Homo sapiens: one gene and its partners. The protein of the gene in region 1 interacts with the protein of each later gene in a pairwise test. Each region holds a gene or a part of one and is shown in the gene's direction. Other genes may lie near its edges.

Region 1 (5,401 bases):
TAAGAGTTTTTTTTAAATTAATAGACTTTATATTTTAGAACAGTTTCAGATTTACAGAAAAACTGGGGAGATTGTAGAGAGTTCCCATATGTCCTCCCATCCCACTCAGAGTTTTTGTATTACTAACATTTTGCATTACTGTGATGTTTGTTACAATTAATGAACCATTAATAATACATTGTTATTAACTAAAGTCCATAGTTTACATTACCTTATATTAACTAATGTTCCTTCTTTGTATTGTACTGGTTCTGTGGGTTTGAGAAATGCATATCGTCATGTACACACCATTACAGTATCATACAGAATAGTTTTACTACTCTAAAATTTGTTTCATTTGTTTATCCCTCAAACCCTTTGCAACAGCTGTTTTTAAATACTGGCTCTATAGTTTTGTCCTTTCCAGGATGCTACATAGTTGGAGTCCTACAGTGTGGGTAGCCTTTTCAGATTGGCTTCTTTCACTTAGCAAGGTGCATTTAAGGTTTCTCCATGTTTTTTGTGGCTTGACTTCTCATTTCTTTTTATCACTAAATACTCACTTATTATAAAGGCTCCTTGGTTACTTCAGTTTTTTACAATTGTGAAAAACATTGCTATATACATTTGTGTGCAGGCTCTTACGTGAATATAAGTCTTCAATTCAGTTGGATTGAGGAGTGAGACTGGTGGGTTGTATTTTTAAAGTATGTTTACTTTTGTAACAAACGGCCAAACTGTCTTCCAAAGTGGCTGTACTCCTGCATTCCCACTGCAGTGAATGAGAATTCCTAGTGCTTTGCATCTCACCAACATTTGCATTTCAAGGAGAGTTGTTTATTGTTTATTATTATTTTAACAATACTGAATCTTCCCATTGAGAGATATTTTATGTCTGTATTCATTCTTTTTAGTAATGTTTTTTAAAGTGTTTTCTTCACGCTGGTTGTGCAGTGGCTTACGCCTGTAATCCCAGCATTTTGGGAGGCCCAGGCTGGGGAATCACTTGAGGTCAGGAGTTCGAGTCCAGCCTGGGCAACATAATGAAATCCTAAAAATGCAAAAAAATTTAGCCGGGTGTGGTGACGCATGCCTATAATCCCTGCTACTTGGGAGGCTGGGGCAGGAGAATTGCTTGAACCTGGGGTGCTGAGGTTTCAGTGAGCTGAGATCGCGCTACTGCACTCCAACCTGGGTGACAGAGCAAGACTCTGTCTCAAAAAAAAAAAAATTTTTTTTCTTCGGATAGGTCTTGAAGTAATCTTGTTGTTGATCTTGTGTCTGTTCATTTTGCTGAAATGTTTTAGCTCCAATTAATTGGTTCTAATGGGGTTTTTAAAAAAATTTTCTTGTGTATTCTAAATAAATAATCTATTTGTCATTTTCACTACAAATGAGTTTTACCATATTCTTTCCAATGTTGTTATGACTTTTCTTAATGGATTGTCAAATATAATCAATACTGAATTGGCTTGGTAATTGTGATCTTCCTTGTTTTGTTGCTGATTTTAATTTATTCTTTTTCTTTTTCTTTCTTTTTTTTTTTTTTTTTTTTTTCTTCAGACGGAGTCTTGCTCTTTTGCCCAGGTTGGAGTACAGTGGCGTGATCCTGGCTCACTGCAACCTCTACCTCCCGGATTCAAGCAATACTTCTGCCTCAGCCTCCTGAGTAGCTGGGATTACAGGCACACAACCACCACACCCAGCTAATTTTCCTATTTTTTGGTAGAGACAGGGTTTCACCGTGTTGGTCAGGGTGGTCTCAAACTCCTGACCTCGTGATCCACCCGCCTCGGCCTCCCAAAGTGCTGGGATTACAGGCGTGAGCCACTGTGCCCAGCCCTGATTTTACTTTATTCTTGATCTTAATAGAAGTTCTTACAATAGGCTGGGCACAGTGGCTCATGCCTGTAATCCCAGAACTTTGGGAGGCCAAGTTGGGTGGATCATTTGAGGTCAGGAGTTCAAGACTGGCCTGGCCAACAAGGTGAAAGCCCATCTCTACCAAAAAATAGGAAAACTAACCAGGCGTGGTGGCGGGTGCCTGTAATCCCGGCTACTGGGGGGCTGAGGAAGGAGAACCGTTTGAACCCGGGAGGTGGAGGTTGCAGTGAGCTGTGATTGTGCCACTGCACTCCAGTCTGGGCCACAGAGCGAGACACCTTCTCAAAAAAAAAAGTTCTTAAAATGTTTTACAATTATTGTATATTAATGACTGTAGGTTTGTGATAGATAATCTAGATTACTTCTTAATTTTTCATGATTCTTCTTATCAGGCATTTTACCAAGATTTTCTTGAATGCTTTTGGTTTGTTTTGAAAATAATCATATGACGTTTATCCTTTAATCTGCTAACAGTAGATTTTCTAATGTAGTTTCCTAATATCAAATCATCCTTGAATTTATACATGATGTTAGTCTATAGTCTTCTTGTTCTGTTGTTGTTCAGTTTCAGCTTTGAAAGTTTACATTACCTTCCCAGAATAAGTTAGGACACTCCTTTTCACTTTTTCTCCCCTAATGTGTTATAACACCTTAAATAACATAAGAATGATCTATCCAATAAAGGCTTCATAGAATTTTCTCAAAAACCTTTCTGAGCCTGGAGCCTTTAGGAGGGATGATATTAGAACTTTCATCACCTTTTCCATTGCTGCTCTGATTTGTCTTTTTTTCTTTCCCTTGAGTTAGTTTAGCTAATTTCAAACTCATTGATATGAAATTGTACGTGGTATTTCTAATGTTATTTATATTAAACATGTTTTCTTTATAACACTTGGAAAGGTATATTTCATGGTTTCTCCAGCTTTCCTGAGTAAAAAAATCATATGCATTTGTTAAAAATGCAGATCCCCAGGTTCTTCCCTAGAGATTTCCCCTAGAGATTCAGTAAGTCTAGGATGAGGACTTAGATACTATATTTTCAGTAAGTTCTGGAGTCTTATCAGGTGCATTAGGAAATTCTGATCTTTTTTTTGGGTCTTTTGACCAAAATTCATTTTCTTCTACTTACTTTTTTTTTTTTTTTCTGTATCTGGAATGAATTCTAAGCTCTTTTGTTACCATTCTTTCTTACATCTTTAGGTACTTCTTTGGCCATGTCCAGTAGCATTTAATCTGAGTGTTTTCTTTTTGTCATTAATTCTCCTAAAATTTGTGATTATGTCTCCCTCTGCCATTTCCATTAGAACTTTGATATATGGTCTTCCAGTAGGTTTTGTTCTGTAATCTATTCACCCTTACAGTTTTAATTTGACTCATTTTTATAGTGACACGTAGTCGAACTAGATCAATCACACTTAAAATGAAAATTAGGAAAACTGTGTCACTGGATTGCAGTACTGGGTTATTTCTTGAAAAAGTGTAGAATGGGTTCTTGCAACCCCTATAGTACTATCTTAAGAACTGATGCCATCATACAGTTCCTACTATTGGCAAAACAGTTCGTTTGATGTTAGCTACCACTTACACAAGGGAAGGGCGATTGAAAGGGATCATTTTTCAGAGTTTAGATGGCCCATACAGACTTCCTCTCAGAATTGATGATTTGGAGGGAAAACACTGGTTATCTTAATGCTGGTTCCTCTCTCCTTAAGGTTGTTATTATTATACATACTTAAATTTTTATCATTTACATATTCATCCCTGAAATTTTGAGCAACAAAAATAAAATCTCCATTTTATTTTATGTTACATATTTTGAAAATATTACTTTGTCTGCTGTTTGGAGAATGGATTGTAGTTGCTTAGTCTGGATTAGGCTCTGAATAAGTGTAGTCAATTGATTAGGTAATTGATTGCTTTATCATTACTTGATAGATGATTTTATTAATTTTCCCTTCTCAGTTAATGGAGAATCATCCTCATTTGCACCAACTGATAATGCGTCTGTCACGGGTACTCCAGTAGTGTCTGAAGAAAATGCCTTGTCTCCAAATTGCACTAGTACTACTGTTGAAGATCCTCCAGTTCAAGAAATACTGACTTCCTCAGAAAACAATGAATGTATTCCTTCTACCAGTGCAGAATTGGAATCTGAAGCTAGAAGTATATTAGAGCCTGACACCTCTAATTCTAGAAGTAGTTCTGCTTTTGAAGCAGCCAAATCAAGACAGCCAGATGGGTGTATGGATCCTGTACGGCAGCAGTCTGGGAATGCCAACACAGAAACCTTGCCATCAGGGTATGTTAAGCTTTTTAATGTCTGACTTGCATTTAAGTAGCAACTCTGTTAACATACGATTATTGAATGTGTGCATAAAATGTTTTCATTGTTCAGAACTTTGAAATCTAAGTTGGGATCTGAATCATACTATTTATTTACTTGCTACAAAACAAGTACTTTTTGAAACTAAGAACAATTGCTCATCTGGTTGACATATATGTAGTACGAAGGGAAAAGAAAAAACCTGATGTTAATTAGCAAGACCCTCTTAATTTGATTCTTGGTTTATTTCTACTTTTCGTAAGAGTGACCATGATACTCCATATAATATCCTCAGTTCTCTGGCATCCTTGGTGATCTGTTTTCCAGACCTCATACTGGAGAGCAAATAGCTCTTCTTTTCCTCAGCTAATATTGAGTGCTGGGGAGTCACAAACCTTGCTGATTGGCTCTATTAAAAATGCAGTTTTTCATTGCTGGTTAGTAATTCTTAATCTCTTTTAAGTTTCTCATTATAATTACTCAACTTCCCATGATTTTCTTTAAAGAGTATTCTATATGTGTATTCCATTCGGTAATTTCTTTGACCTTTGGCACTGATAATACTAATATTAATTAATGATTAATTGTCTCTGCCTTCAAGAAGCTTATTTAGTGATTCACAGTTGTAAACGTGTACAGTATATACAGTACAGTCAGAAAGTATATATGGACACGTGCTTTCCAACACAGTTTACAGTGATCAGAATGTCAACTGTTGTAGCTATTGAAACTGCACTTCTAGATGTCTCTACACTATTGTCTTCATTTTGTTACCTCAGTCACTATGTTAGTGTACGTTGGTTTTTTTTTTGGAATTGTTTTTTTTTTTCTCAGTGCCCTTTACTGGCTCGTCTGATGTTGTCCACTGCTTAATTACGGTTTCAGCCTTTGGTCTTCCTTTGTGTGCTTACCCCAGTAGATCTAGCACTCTCCATTATTATTATTTTGGAGCAGAGTTTCATTCTTGTTGGCCAGGCTAGAGTGCAATGGCACGATCTTGGCTCACTGCAACTTCCGCCTCCCAGGTTCAAGTGAGTCTGCTGCCTTAGCCTCCCAAGTGGCTGGGATTAGAGGCACCCGCCACTATGCCCAGCTAATTTTTGTATTTTTAGTAGAGACGGGGTTTTTCCATGTTGGTCAGGCTGGTCTCGAACTCCTGACCTCATGATCCACCCGCCTTGCTTCCCAAAGTGCTGGGATTACAGGTGTGAGCCA
Region 2 (4,112 bases), on another chromosome or scaffold:
TTTAAAAAATTAGCCAGGGTGCTGGTGCATGCCTGTAGTCCCAGCTACTCTGAGGCTTCAGTGGGAGGATCACTTGAGTCCAGGATTTAAAGGCTGCAGTGAGCTATGATTGTACAACTGCACTCCAGCCAGCCTGTGTGACAGAGTGAGACTGTTTCAAAAAGCAAAAAGACCAAAAACTGAAAACCTTAAAACCAAACCAGGTGTACAAATCCCAGTTTAGGCCGGGCGTGGTGACTTACACCTGTAATCTCAGCACTTTGGGAGGCCAAGGCAGGTGGATCACCTGAGGTCAGGAGTTCAAGACTAGCCTGACCAATATGGTGAAACCCAGTCTCTACTAAAAACACAAAAACATTAGCCGGGCATGGTGGCACGTGCCTGTAATCCCAGCCACTCAGGAGGCTGAAGCCAGAGAATCGCTTGAATCCAGGAGGTGGAGGTTACAGTGAGCCAAGATAGTGCCACTGCACTCCAGCCTGGGTAACAGAGTGAGGTCCCATCTCAAAAACAAACAAACAAAAAACAAATCCCAGTTCAGGCAATCTTCCTGCTGAAGCTTCAGGTCATCAGCCCCCAGATGGGCTGCAGATAAACCACTAGGCTTTCAGAACTGAGCATTTGTTTGTTGTCCTCCAGGTTAAGATGCAGTGGGGGCTGCTGGCAGTCCATGCCAGGTGCACGTGGCAACTGGCACAAGTGGCTGTGGCTGGAAGGCAGGAGACCTGGCTCCCTCTGGTGCTGCCAGCCTGGCTGTGTGCTCGGGGATGGGTCCCTTCCCTCTCTCTGTGTCAACTCCCACCCTGCACCAATCAGGGTGACTGAATGTGGGGAGGGAGGGCGATGCCCCTTAAAAGGGCTCGCTTAGAGGAGTGAATGTACCCCTGGCACCGTGGTAGCAGACAATTATTGATGTTTGCTAGTTATGGAAGGCGGGGCAGAATTAGTCACCGTGAATTAGCCCTGTGGTCAACCAGAGATGAGACCTTTGGATGGACTTGACCTCTGTGACCCCTTCAGCCTGGCCCTGGGTTCCCCCAGCCCTCTCATGAGTCCACAGTGTCCTCTAGCTTTTGCTCAGGCCAGGCTGGCCAGCCCAGCCCCCATTGCTGCAGAGTGGTCGCCAACAGAGCCCCTCCTGGGTTCCGGGCTTATCACCTGCCTCCTTCCATTTTCCTCACCACCGTCTGCCCAGGCAGGGCTTATGGGTGTCGGGGAGGTGTTGAGGGTGTCTTTGCTCTAGATGCGGTCCAGAGAGACTATGGGGTTTGCTCATGGTTACCCAGCTCATCGATGCTAGACAAGGACAAGAGCCTGGGTCTGCAGAGTGCAGGGATAAAGCCTTGAGTCCCAGCCCTGAGGGGAGGGAGGCAATTGCCAGGGCTGGCCAGCTCCTGACAGGATTGCCCCCCGCAGGTGGTACTGGCCATGCCCTACGATACGCCCGTGCCTGGCTATCGCAACAATGTTGTCAACACCATGCGCCTCTGGTCTGCCAAGGCTCCCAATGACTTCAACCTCAAGGACTGTGAGTTCATCCACTGGTAGCCAGCAACCCCAGCTTGCCCGCCGGCCACGCCCAGCGCAGGCCTTACCCTGTCCCCACTTTTGTCCCTCAGTCAATGTCGGTGGCTACATCCAGGCTGTGTTGGACCGAAACCTGGCGGAGAACATCTCTCGTGTCCTGTACCCCAATGATAATGTGCGTCACCCCCTGGGCTGGGGGCTGGAAGCCTGAGTCCTTGGCAGCAGGGGTCAGGGAGAGCTGGGGAAGGACACTTGCTGGTGCCCTAGTCACACCCAGGGCATATTGCTGGCCTTGTGCATCCTGTGCCCCCACCTCAAGTCTTTTGAGTGCAAGGACACCTGAGTCCTGAGGAAACTGGGTTAGCGAAGGGCACTTTGGAGGGGCTGTTCCCTGGCGACACCCACAACACACTCGGTTCTTGTACCCCTCTTCCTGACACTGTCTCTCGCCACTAGTTCTTGGTGGAGGAAAGGCCCCTGGGTCCCAGAGAGGGGGCCGGCTCAGGGCTCAGGGGTCCCGGTATGGGTGGGAGTCCCTCCTGGCCACACCCACCGCAGCTTTAGGCCATGCCCCCACCGCCCTGACTCACGCTGCCTCATGCTGTCCCCAGTTCTTCGAAGGGAAGGAGCTGCGGCTGAAGCAGGAGTATTTCGTGGTGGCTGCCACCCTCCAGGACATCATCCGTCGCTTCAAGTCTTCCAAGTTCGGCTGCCGTGATCCCGTGCGCACGAACTTCGATGCCTTCCCAGATAAGGTACCATGCGTGTGGAGGGCGACTCTGTGACCGGACAGTGTGTGCTAGGCCTCTCCCTCCAGCCTCGGCCTGCCTGCCCCATGTAATAGATAAGGGAGTGGAGACTGGGAGTGTGGGAGGGTCAGTTGTTCAGGATTCACAATCCACAGGCTCAGAACCTGGGCTTCCCTCCTCCTCCCGCCCCACTCCCCCCATTCCTCCCACCCCCATGAGCACCGGCCTGCCTCTGCCCACAGCCCAGTCACAGAACCGTGCTGGGCTCTCTGGGGGCCTCCAAATGGCATAGGGCAGTGACCATAGCATGGAATGTGGTTTGGAGCCCAGACTGACCCCTCCCCCTACCCCAGGTGGCCATCCAGCTCAATGACACCCACCCCTCCCTGGCCATCCCCGAGCTGATGAGGATCCTGGTGGACCTGGAACGGATGGACTGGGACAAGGTGGGCTTCAGGGCCCCTCTGCCCCATCTGATGCTCTCTGCCTCGGGGTTCCCTTCCCAGTTTGGGAGCGTGGGAGGATATGAATGGAGTGAAGGGATCAGAGCCTGAGGCCAGAGGGACCGTCCTGGAACCTGGCACTGCAGTGGGGGGGCCCACTGGGATGCGTAGTGTGTGAGGAGACCCACTGGGCTGAGGTCAGCATCCTGACTGCCCACCCCGTGTGCCAGGCGTGGGATGTGACAGTGAGGACCTGTGCCTACACCAACCACACGGTGCTGCCCGAGGCCCTGGAGCGCTGGCCGGTGCACCTCTTGGAGACGCTGCTGCCGCGGCACCTCCAGATCATCTACGAGATCAACCAGCGCTTCCTCAACGTGAGTCCGGAGGCTTGGGGGATGGTGTGGGGGTGAGGGGGGACACCCAGTCTGGGCCTGGGAGTCGGGGCGTCCAGCCAGGGCCCTGAGACTCTGGGGCAGTGGGGGCACTGGGCAGAGCTCTGGGGGTGTGGGGCTGGGGACTGGGGATGGGGGTTCCTGGGTCTGGTTCTAGCTCTGGGCTCTCTGGGCACAGCGGGTGGCGGCCGCATTCCCAGGGGACGTAGACCGGCTGCGGCGCATGTCGCTGGTGGAGGAGGGCGCAGTGAAGCGCATCAACATGGCACACCTGTGCATCGCGGGGTCGCACGCCGTCAACGGCGTGGCGCGCATCCACTCCGAGATCCTCAAGAAGACCATGTGAGCCCCGCTTTCCAGATCCCGCCCCTCTCTAGGCCCCACCCACTCCACGCCTCTGTCACACAGAAGCCCCGCCCTTCACCGACCACTCTCTGGTCTCTGGGCCCTGGCGCCTTTCACAGGTGGCGTCATTCTTACAAGCACAGCAGCCCCTTCCAGTGCCGCCCTGTCCTGAGATGACCTCCTCTTACACACAGCACCCCCAACCTTCCCCAGGTCTGCATTCCCTGCCCCAGGCCCCTTTCAGCAAGACACCAGGGTAGGGGCCCCAGGGCAGAGGCCTTCATTGTACAGGGGTGAGTGGTGACCCTCGTCCAACCTCATCCTGCAGCTTCAAAGACTTCTATGAGCTGGAGCCTCATAAGTTCCAGAATAAGACCAACGGCATCACCCCTCGGCGCTGGCTGGTTCTGTGTAACCCCGGGCTGGCAGAGGTCATTGCTGAGGTGAGAGGCCACCGTAGGGCCAGTAGAGTCAACATGGGTCCCTGCAGGGATCAGCTGGGTATGGTCGTGTAGGTGGTTCACTGCATCAGGGCTCCCAGCTGAAGGCTGAAATCCCTCCTGCACTGTGTTCCCCAAGCCTCGCATCCACCTGGAGGAGGGACACCATCTTAATTGCATGAGGGTGCTCTGTGTGCTAATGGAGGCCCTGGC
Region 3 (4,112 bases), on another chromosome or scaffold:
GGCTGGAGTGCAGTGGTGCGATCTCGGCTTACTGCAACCTCCACCTCCTGGATTCAAGCAATTCTCCTGCCTCAGCCTCCCAAGTATCTGGGATTACAGGCGCCTGCCACCATGCCCAGCTAATTTTTGTATTTTTAATAGAGATGGGGTTTCACCATGTTGGCCAGGCTGGTCTCGAACTCCTAACCTCAAGTGGTCTGCCTGCCTCGGCCTCCCGAAGTGCTGGGATTATGGGCTTGAGCCACCAGGCCCGGCCCCATTTTGTATATTTTTTAAGGCTTTCATTTTATGCCAGTCCTTCCCCCAGGATGGAACATGGCATAAAATCAGAGTCATCATTAGCATTGAAATGTAATTAAAGCTTGGACAGCTTGGAAAAGAATTCTCAAAGTATCTACTGTCTTTTTCAGATTTTTGTCATTTCAACAAGAGTAAAAGTTTCATAAATAAGATTCTTTAGTAATGTATTAGAATGAAAGTGAAAAATAATACAGAAAAAAAAATATACTGGCCTGGCACAGTGGCTAACTCCAGCCTGGGGACAGAGCAAGACTCCGTCTCAAAAAAAAAAAAAAAGAAATATACCTTAAAGTGATCGCCTTGACCATGTTTTCTAAGTGTCCCAGTTGTCTTGCTGCTAACAATATCTCCAAAGCTCAGTAGACTAAAACAAGGTTTATTTCATACCACACAATCTGTTGGGTCAGGAGTTAGGCAGTTCTCTCACATTGTGCCCGTGAGGGTCATTCACTTGGCAGCAGGGCTGGTATGGAGGGTCCCAGATAGTGATAGCATCCTTCCTGGCCCCAGCCCCTGGTTGGGGAGCTGAAAGTCGGGACTCAGCTTCTTCATATCCTCTTTTCAGCATGGTGGTGGCCAGCCCATACTTGCAAAAGTCCAGAACAGACTTGGGTCCCTTTGCAGGCCACACCCAAACTGGCACAGCGTCTTGTTCACTGTGCTTGTGGTCAGAGCAGCCCATCTGCCTGCGGAGGTGCTGGGGAGCTCGTGCCACCTCCGAGCTGCTCGCGTCCTTGCTCACGTCCTTACTCACATCCTTACCCTGCTATACTGTCCAATATTTCCTATTTGTCCCTACTGTCTGGCTTGTGAAGCCTTGTCCTGAGCAGTTAAATGATGAAATTGTACATTTGATTTGTTAGCTGTATTTTTGTCTAAACGTTAGTTGTTTAACTATATTAAAATTATCTTTACAAATCATCTTGAATCATCTCACATAGCACACATTAGGAAACACTGGTCAGAAGGACTTGCTTTATGTAGAGCTCCACTGTTTGTAGGGAGGTGGCCCCTGCTGCGCGTGTTTGGCGGCAATGTCACCTTTTGTTCTGTGGTCAGTTGGTCACTATGTGCTTACACTTTACCGCTAGGTATGGACGACAAAGGCGACCCGAGCAATGAGGAGGCACCTAAGGCCATCAAACCCACCAGCAAAGAGTTCAGGAAAACATGGGGTTTTCGAAGGACCACTATCGCCAAGCGAGAGGGCGCAGGGGACGCGGAGGCTGACCCACTGGAGCCGCCACCCCCACAGCAGCAGCTGGGCCTGTCCCTGCGGCGCAGTGGGAGGCAGCCCAAGCGCACTGAGCGCGTGGAGCAGTTCCTGACCATTGCGCGGCGCCGCGGCAGGAGGAGCATGCCTGTCTCCCTGGAGGATTCTGGTGAGCCCACGTCCTGCCCCGCCACAGACGCCGAGACAGCCTCCGAGGGCAGCGTGGAAAGCGCTTCTGAGACCAGAAGCGGCCCCCAGTCTGCTTCCACAGCTGTGAAGGAACGACCAGCCTCTTCTGAAAAGGTGAAAGGAGGGGATGACCACGATGACACCTCCGATAGTGACAGCGATGGCCTGACCTTGAAAGAGCTTCAGAATCGCCTTCGCAGGAAGCGGGAACAGGAGCCCACTGAGAGGCCCCTGAAAGGGATCCAGAGTCGCCTGCGGAAGAAGCGCCGGGAGGAGGGTCCCGCCGAGACTGTGGGCTCCGAGGCCAGTGACACTGTGGAGGGCGTCCTGCCCAGTAAGCAGGAGCCCGAGAACGATCAGGGGGTTGTGTCCCAGGCTGGGAAAGATGACAGAGAGAGTAAGTTGGAGGGAAAGGCGGCTCAGGACATCAAAGATGAGGAGCCTGGAGACTTGGGCCGACCGAAGCCTGAATGTGAGGGTTACGACCCCAACGCCCTGTATTGCATTTGCCGCCAGCCTCACAACAACAGGTGGGTCATGTGTGGGCACCCACAGAAATCCCAGGGTTGCAAACAGAATTTTCCATTTGTTTTCATTTTAAAGGGTTACAAAGCTGGGCTGGATGAGCGATTTGTTGGAAAAGATGAACAAGTTGTCAAAAAAGAAACACATAAGAGTGGCTAAGGACTTCCTAGAGCCACCTCTCCACTCTGGTAGCCACTGGCCACACATGGCTGTTTCCAGTCAAGTGAGGAGGTGAATAGCGCCCCACCCCAGTCACGTGAGCCACGTGCAGCCAGTGGCTCTGTGTAGACGGCATGGAGGAGAATGTGTCCGTCACTCCGGGGTCTGTCTGAGACTGCTCCTCTAGACTGCCCCTTGGGAGACATAGCAGAGGGGCATGTGCAGACCGCAAGTGTCCTAGTGCAAACATTGGGGCAGCTCAAAAGATCTCTGCTAGGACTGGGTGTCAGACGGTGATAGGCAGCCTGTTGGCTTGGCGCTGGGATAAAGGCATTGTCGCAGTTTTGGGGGGAGACTTGCTGAGGTATCTGTGGTGGAATGCCTTAGAGTTTGCTCCTAAAATGCGCTACTCTTAAAAAACGGTGAAGTAAATTTGGTTGAATGTTAAAATCAAAGGAAAGGCATGAGGACGTTCTTAATCTCTACTTTTCTGTATATTTGCATTTTTTCATGAAGTTAAAACCAATTGTCTTATTAATGTGTTGAAAAGTGCTTGTCACTCACGTCCCATTGCTAATACCGTTATTTTATAATTTCAGGTTTATGATTTGCTGTGACCGCTGTGAAGAATGGTTTCATGGCGATTGTGTGGGCATTTCTGAGGCTCGAGGGAGGCTTTTGGAAAGGAATGGGGAAGACTATATCTGCCCAAACTGCACCATTCTGCAAGTGCAGGATGAGACTCATTCAGAAACGGCAGATCAGCAGGAAGCTAAATGGAGACCTGGAGATGCTGATGGCACCGATTGTACAAGTATAGGAACAATAGAGCAGAAGTCTAGCGAAGACCAAGGGATAAAGGGTAGAATTGAGAAAGCTGCAAATCCAAGTGGCAAGAAGAAACTCAAGATCTTCCAGCCTGTAAGTGTTTGTCCGCTGAGACGAGCATTCAGCAGTCGGCCTCACTGGTTTCAGTCTCGCTCTAGATAGAAATTCCTCCCAGGACGGGTGCTGCACCCATGTGGGGCGGTGCCTCTCCCGGGTTCCTGCCTCACTCCACCTGGGTGAGGCCTTTCTATTTTTATTCTTACCCTGTCTACCTCCTCTACTATTAATGACTTAATTGTTGAAATCAGCCCATCTTTGAGGATTTGGGTGTTGCTTACATGCTTTGTATGCATTAGCAGAAAGGAATTGTTTCTGAACGATGGGAGTGGCGGTGCTCCTGTGTCACCTGCTGTCTCCAGCTGCCTCGTGGTTCTGGTGCTGGCTCCTCGGGGTGCTTGTGTTGAGAGTGGTTTCTCTGTCTTGCAGCTGTGTTGACACTTAATTCTCTCCCCCTGATGTTTATGACATTTCCCACATGCTGTCAGCTTCTGCTGCTGTCTTGTGTTTGCAGTCTCCATTCCAGTCCCCACAGGGCAGGTGTGACTTGGCGTGTTTTCACTCTGGTCCCTCCAGGGTCCCGGGCCTGTCCCCACCCAGCTGCCTGTCCTCTGGCAGGTATTGGAAATTGCTGTGTCTAGAAGCATCTCTGCCTTCACACTCTTGCACTGCATTAGCTGCAAGGTGAGGATGTCCGAAGGCTGGGCCGTGCACCTGGGAGCGTGCCCTTGGAGGCAGGAGGGGCTGAAGGCTCATGCTGCGCTGCTATCAGAGGCCACATCTGGGCATTCAGAGATGAATGGAGATGGGAATTCATGAGAAAAGTCATTGGCTTTATGTC
Region 4 (4,112 bases), on another chromosome or scaffold:
AATTCTGTGACATCACTCTGTTGCTTGACGGGCACCCACGGCCAGCCCACAAGGCTATCCTGGCCGCCCGCTCCAGGTGGGTGGGGGCTGGACAGGAGGGGAGGGTGGGCCTGGATGGTGTCTTCGTTCTGCTGACGGCCAGGTGCCTACCGCTCGTTGTCTGCAGCTACTTTGAAGCCATGTTCCGGTCCTTCATGCCCGAAGATGGGCAGGTGAACATCTCCATCGGGGAGATGGTGCCCAGCAGGCAGGCCTTCGAGTCCATGCTGCGCTACATCTACTACGGCGAGGTCAACATGCCGCCCGAGGACTCGCTGCATCCTCACTCCCCAGTGAACTCCCAGGTCCCCACCAAGGGGTCCTGGCACCCACCTCAGGTGGCTTTGAGGCCCGCTCTCCTGCCCCAGCTAGGTGATCTGGGCCCAGCGCCTCCCTCCAGAGGGTTTGCTGGTGCCTGGGGCTGGGCCTGGTGCTCTCTGAAGCAGTTGGCAGCTGGCAAGGAGGGGTTTGCAGCCAGGAGGAACCAGTGGGTTCCTGACCCTCACAACTGCCCAGAGGACGGGGTGGGTCATTGCTTTGTGTGACAGTTGAGCACAGACATGGAGGTACTCCTTATGTCACTTCAGTAGGGGTCTGAACATGGAGGGTCAGGATGCCTGTTAGGCCTGCAAGGCCATGGAACAGCGCTACAGATGTACAGACACTATTTTTCTCGGGAGGGGATTCATGGTTTTCTTTGGATCCTGAATGGGGCCTTTGACCCACTAAGTAGTTCAGAATCCATTTGGAGAGCATGCTGGCGTGGGGGCTTGGGGCTCCAGCTGCGCCCTTCCCTGTCCTTCCCTGGGAGGGTGCGGGCGGACCAGCTTCCTTTAGTCAGCTCCTTAACCAGGCCCCAGCTACTTGTTTGCGGCCCCCTACTACTACGGCTTCTACAACAACCGGCTGCAGGCGTACTGCAAGCAGAACCTGGAGATGAACGTGACGGTGCAGAACGTGCTGCAGGTAGCCCCCCAGCCCCGTGCACATGGCTGCAGCTCCCACTGAGTGGGTGAAAGGGGCAGCGCCTCAAGGTCCCTGCCATTGCAGATCCTGGAGGCAGCTGACAAAACGCAGGCACTGGACATGAAGCGGCACTGCCTGCACATCATTGTGCACCAGTTCACCAAGGTCAGGGCTCTGGCCTCCCCTTCAGGACTCGCTTCCCCTTGGCAGTGGCCATGCCCAGGCAGGGAGGGTGCCCAGGCTCTGTGGTCCCCTGCAGTGGTGGGCCCTGGGGGTGAGAGAAGCAGAGCAGCCCATCACTGGCCGCACCTTGCTTCATCCTTGGGACCAGCCTGAGCCCTGAGCAGGGTAGGCCCCACAGGGCTCCACTGCCCACCATGGCCCTTAGGTGGATCTGGTCCCATCTCCTTCCGGCCTGCTTGCCTTACAGGTCTCCAAGTTGCCCACCCTGCGGTCGCTGAGCCAGCAGCTGCTGCTGGACATCATAGACTCCCTGGCCTCCCACATCTCAGACAAGCAGTGCGCAGAGCTGGGCGCCGACATCTGAGGCCCTGTGGCGCCTGCCCATTGTGAAGAATCGCCGTGCCTGCCTGCCCTGCCTACTGAGAAGACTACCGGCTATGCGCATGCCTATGGCAGTGGGTGCACCTGCCAGGCCAAGGGTCAGGGTGCCCAGAGCCTCCAAAGAGAGCTGAGGGGATGTGGGGCCCCAAACTCATTAATTCACTGAAGACACAGGTCCCACAGGGAGCGGATGATGAAGCAGACCCCCTCCTGTCATCACCCTCTCCTGGTGTAGTGTGGATGCGAGGCCACGGCTCAGTGATGGGCTCACCACCCAGAAGTGGGGAGAGACTTTGGGCCTCCCACCCAGTGGGGCTTGGCCTGGCTTCTGTGGCCTGGGCGTGTTGTGGACTCAGGCACTGGGGCCTGTCACCAAGGCTCCTCCAACATGCGGGAGGAGGCTTAGCAGACTTGCGCTGCACCAGCGAATCTGCCTGGGCTGCTCCTGTCCCACCCACCCTCACTGAGATCCATGTAAGGGGCTCCTCTTCCCACCTGGAACTTGTGAGTGGGGACCCATGATGTATGGGTCTCACCTGACTTGAGGTGAATTTTGGAGTGAAGGGCCCTGAGGTCAGCTCCCAGGTCGGTCGTGCTGGGCCAGGCCTGGTTTTCACAGGGGCTGAAGGATCCCAGTCCACCTGTGTGCATGTCAGGGCTCGGCCGGGAAGAAGCCAGCAAAGTCCCCCGTGTCCCTTGCTGAGTATTCTGTCACAGACAAGCCTCCATTAAAGCCACAGCAGTGCTACCCACCACACACACCTTGCTGGCCCGGCCACCACTGCTGGCTTCAGCCCCTTGAGCAGCCCATGGCTTAGCAGACCCCCAGATGTAGGTCAGTGGCCTTACCTGTCTCTATCCATGCTGTCAACTCCTGCCTCCACCTGGGGTCACCCAGTCACATTGGGAAGGGCTGTGAAGGCCTCCAGGCTGGCCCCTTCCAGGGGAATCCTGGAGGCCTGGGGTGGGCTCCTGCCCCTTCTGCCCTGCCTTGCCCCTGCACTATGCTCTTGGCTCCTGTGGAAGGAGGGCTGCCCTCTTGCCCTAGTGAGGGCCCCATGTGGATCCACTCTAGTGCTGGGAGCCAGCGCTCCCTTACTGGGAACAGGATTCCAGGACCCCTTTCTTGTTGTGGCTGCCATGAAGCCACAGCTCCTTGGGGAAGTGACCTGCTCTCCTTTGGGTGTATGCAGGTGTGTGGGGGGCCCTGAGTGGCAAGTTGCTTAGCTAACAGGAGATCCATAGGCAGCCTGCAGGCTAGGAAGTGGCCTAGTGCAAGATGAGCTGGGAACAAGGGAGGAGAGAGCAGGAGCTGGGGCAGAGGCTGAGCCGGGAGGCCCTTGAGGTGAGGACACAGCAGGCCCAGGACCATGGCTGGGGAGGATATGTCAGCACCTGGAAGTGGAGTGCAGGCTGCAGCGCCCAGCCATGTGGGCCAGGTGCATTCACTCAGAGTGGGGCCACACACCCATCTACCCAGTTTCCACAAGATGTGGCTCCTGCCACACCCACAGGGCAGCCTCCTCCAAATCCCTCCTGGAGGGGCCTACCCAGAAGCCTCCTTGAACCAGTCTGCAACCCTGCTCTATGCTGACCCTTGTCACTGAACCCTGATCTAGACTTATATGAATAAATGAAATTACATGCCAAGGGCCCTAAAAAGCAAATTTTACGAAATTGTGTGGCAGTTTCTGGGACTAGAATGAATTTCATTTGTGCTCCTCGGCAGGGAGAGGCCATACTTGCAGTGAGTCACCCCAAGACGGAGCTGTTTGAGAACTGCAGCTGCAGCAAGGCCTTCCAGGTTCCTGGGAGTTGAAGGAAAAGGATGCTGAGGCCAGGACCTGAGTGCTTGTCTCCATGTTCTGGCCACCTCTTCCTAGATTTCCAGGGACTAGCTTGTTGGGGCTTTACTACCTGCTGACATGACCCAGGAGGTTGATGATTGTCATCATCATCCCCGTTTTTCAAATAGAGATGGTAGTGAAGGGGGCGGGGAGAGGGTTGTCCAGCTTACCCACCAGGCTGATGGGGCCTGTGGACAGAAGCCTGTCATGCTCCTGCTTGAGAACCGGATCTAGACTGGGTTTTAGAAGTGTTCTCAAAGGGGCTGGCTGGTTTAAGTCAGGGCTGTTTCAGATCCTATGGAAAGGGCGCCTGGAGCTGTCTTCCTGGCCCCTACTCACACCATCCTGCCCCTTCAGAGAACCCTGTGGGGCACGGAGCTGCGCTAGCAGGGCTGACTGCCACCTGTCTACCAGTAGCTCTGAGGGGTGAGAGCCAGGCTCCCTGTTCTCCTTGGCAAAGAGCTTGGACTGAGCCCTCTAGGAGCTGCAGCCACTGTCTGGGGCAGCAAGCTTAGTACTCAGAGGGGCTCCAGCCCCCAGCTGAGCCAGACAGCAGGCCCTCCGTCTAGAATCCGCTTTATTATGGCACCTGGTGGGTCTGGTGGGATCTGAGGGAGGAAGAGGCTGCAGTCTTGCTGGGCAGCCCCTCGGTCAGTCCAGCAGCCCCTCAGGCCATGCTGCTGCTCAGCTGCATGG

The links.
Region 2: the proteins of WWP1 (region 1) and PYGM interact in a two-hybrid assay, tested with the Homo sapiens proteins (one large-scale study listed by BioGRID and IntAct).
Region 3: the proteins of WWP1 (region 1) and DIDO1 interact in a two-hybrid assay, tested with the Homo sapiens proteins (one large-scale study listed by BioGRID and IntAct).
Region 4: the proteins of WWP1 (region 1) and LZTR1 interact in a two-hybrid assay, tested with the Homo sapiens proteins (one large-scale study listed by BioGRID and IntAct).

What each region holds. Positions count from the first base shown.
Region 1 is NC_000008.11:86,407,713-86,413,113, forward strand, and holds part of WWP1 (NEDD4-like E3 ubiquitin-protein ligase WWP1), read left to right. Parts: intron 1-3,825; coding exon 3,826-4,162; intron 4,163-5,401. UniProt on the Homo sapiens protein: E3 ubiquitin-protein ligase which accepts ubiquitin from an E2 ubiquitin-conjugating enzyme in the form of a thioester and then directly transfers the ubiquitin to targeted substrates.
Region 2 is NC_000011.10:64,752,863-64,756,974, reverse strand, and holds part of PYGM (glycogen phosphorylase, muscle form), read left to right. Parts: intron 1-1,416; coding exon 1,417-1,528; intron 1,529-1,619; coding exon 1,620-1,702; intron 1,703-2,138; coding exon 2,139-2,282; intron 2,283-2,629; coding exon 2,630-2,722; intron 2,723-2,949; coding exon 2,950-3,096; intron 3,097-3,292; coding exon 3,293-3,456; intron 3,457-3,787; coding exon 3,788-3,902; intron 3,903-4,112. UniProt on the Homo sapiens protein: Allosteric enzyme that catalyzes the rate-limiting step in glycogen catabolism, the phosphorolytic cleavage of glycogen to produce glucose-1-phosphate, and plays a central role in maintaining cellular and organismal glucose homeostasis.
Region 3 is NC_000020.11:62,908,894-62,913,005, reverse strand, and holds part of DIDO1 (death-inducer obliterator 1), read left to right. Parts: intron 1-1,391; 5' UTR 1,392-1,393; coding exon 1,394-2,232; intron 2,233-2,985; coding exon 2,986-3,307; intron 3,308-4,112. UniProt on the Homo sapiens protein: Putative transcription factor, weakly pro-apoptotic when overexpressed. Tumor suppressor. Required for early embryonic stem cell development.
Region 4 is NC_000022.11:20,995,797-20,999,908, forward strand, and holds the end of LZTR1 (leucine-zipper-like transcriptional regulator 1), read left to right. Parts: coding exon 1-76; intron 77-166; coding exon 167-316; intron 317-899; coding exon 900-1,005; intron 1,006-1,089; coding exon 1,090-1,170; intron 1,171-1,435; coding exon 1,436-1,552; 3' UTR 1,553-3,236; downstream 3,237-4,112. Other genes in the region: THAP7 (THAP domain-containing protein 7), read right to left, coding at 4,084-4,112. UniProt on the Homo sapiens protein: Substrate-specific adapter of a BCR (BTB-CUL3-RBX1) E3 ubiquitin-protein ligase complex that mediates ubiquitination of Ras (K-Ras/KRAS, N-Ras/NRAS and H-Ras/HRAS).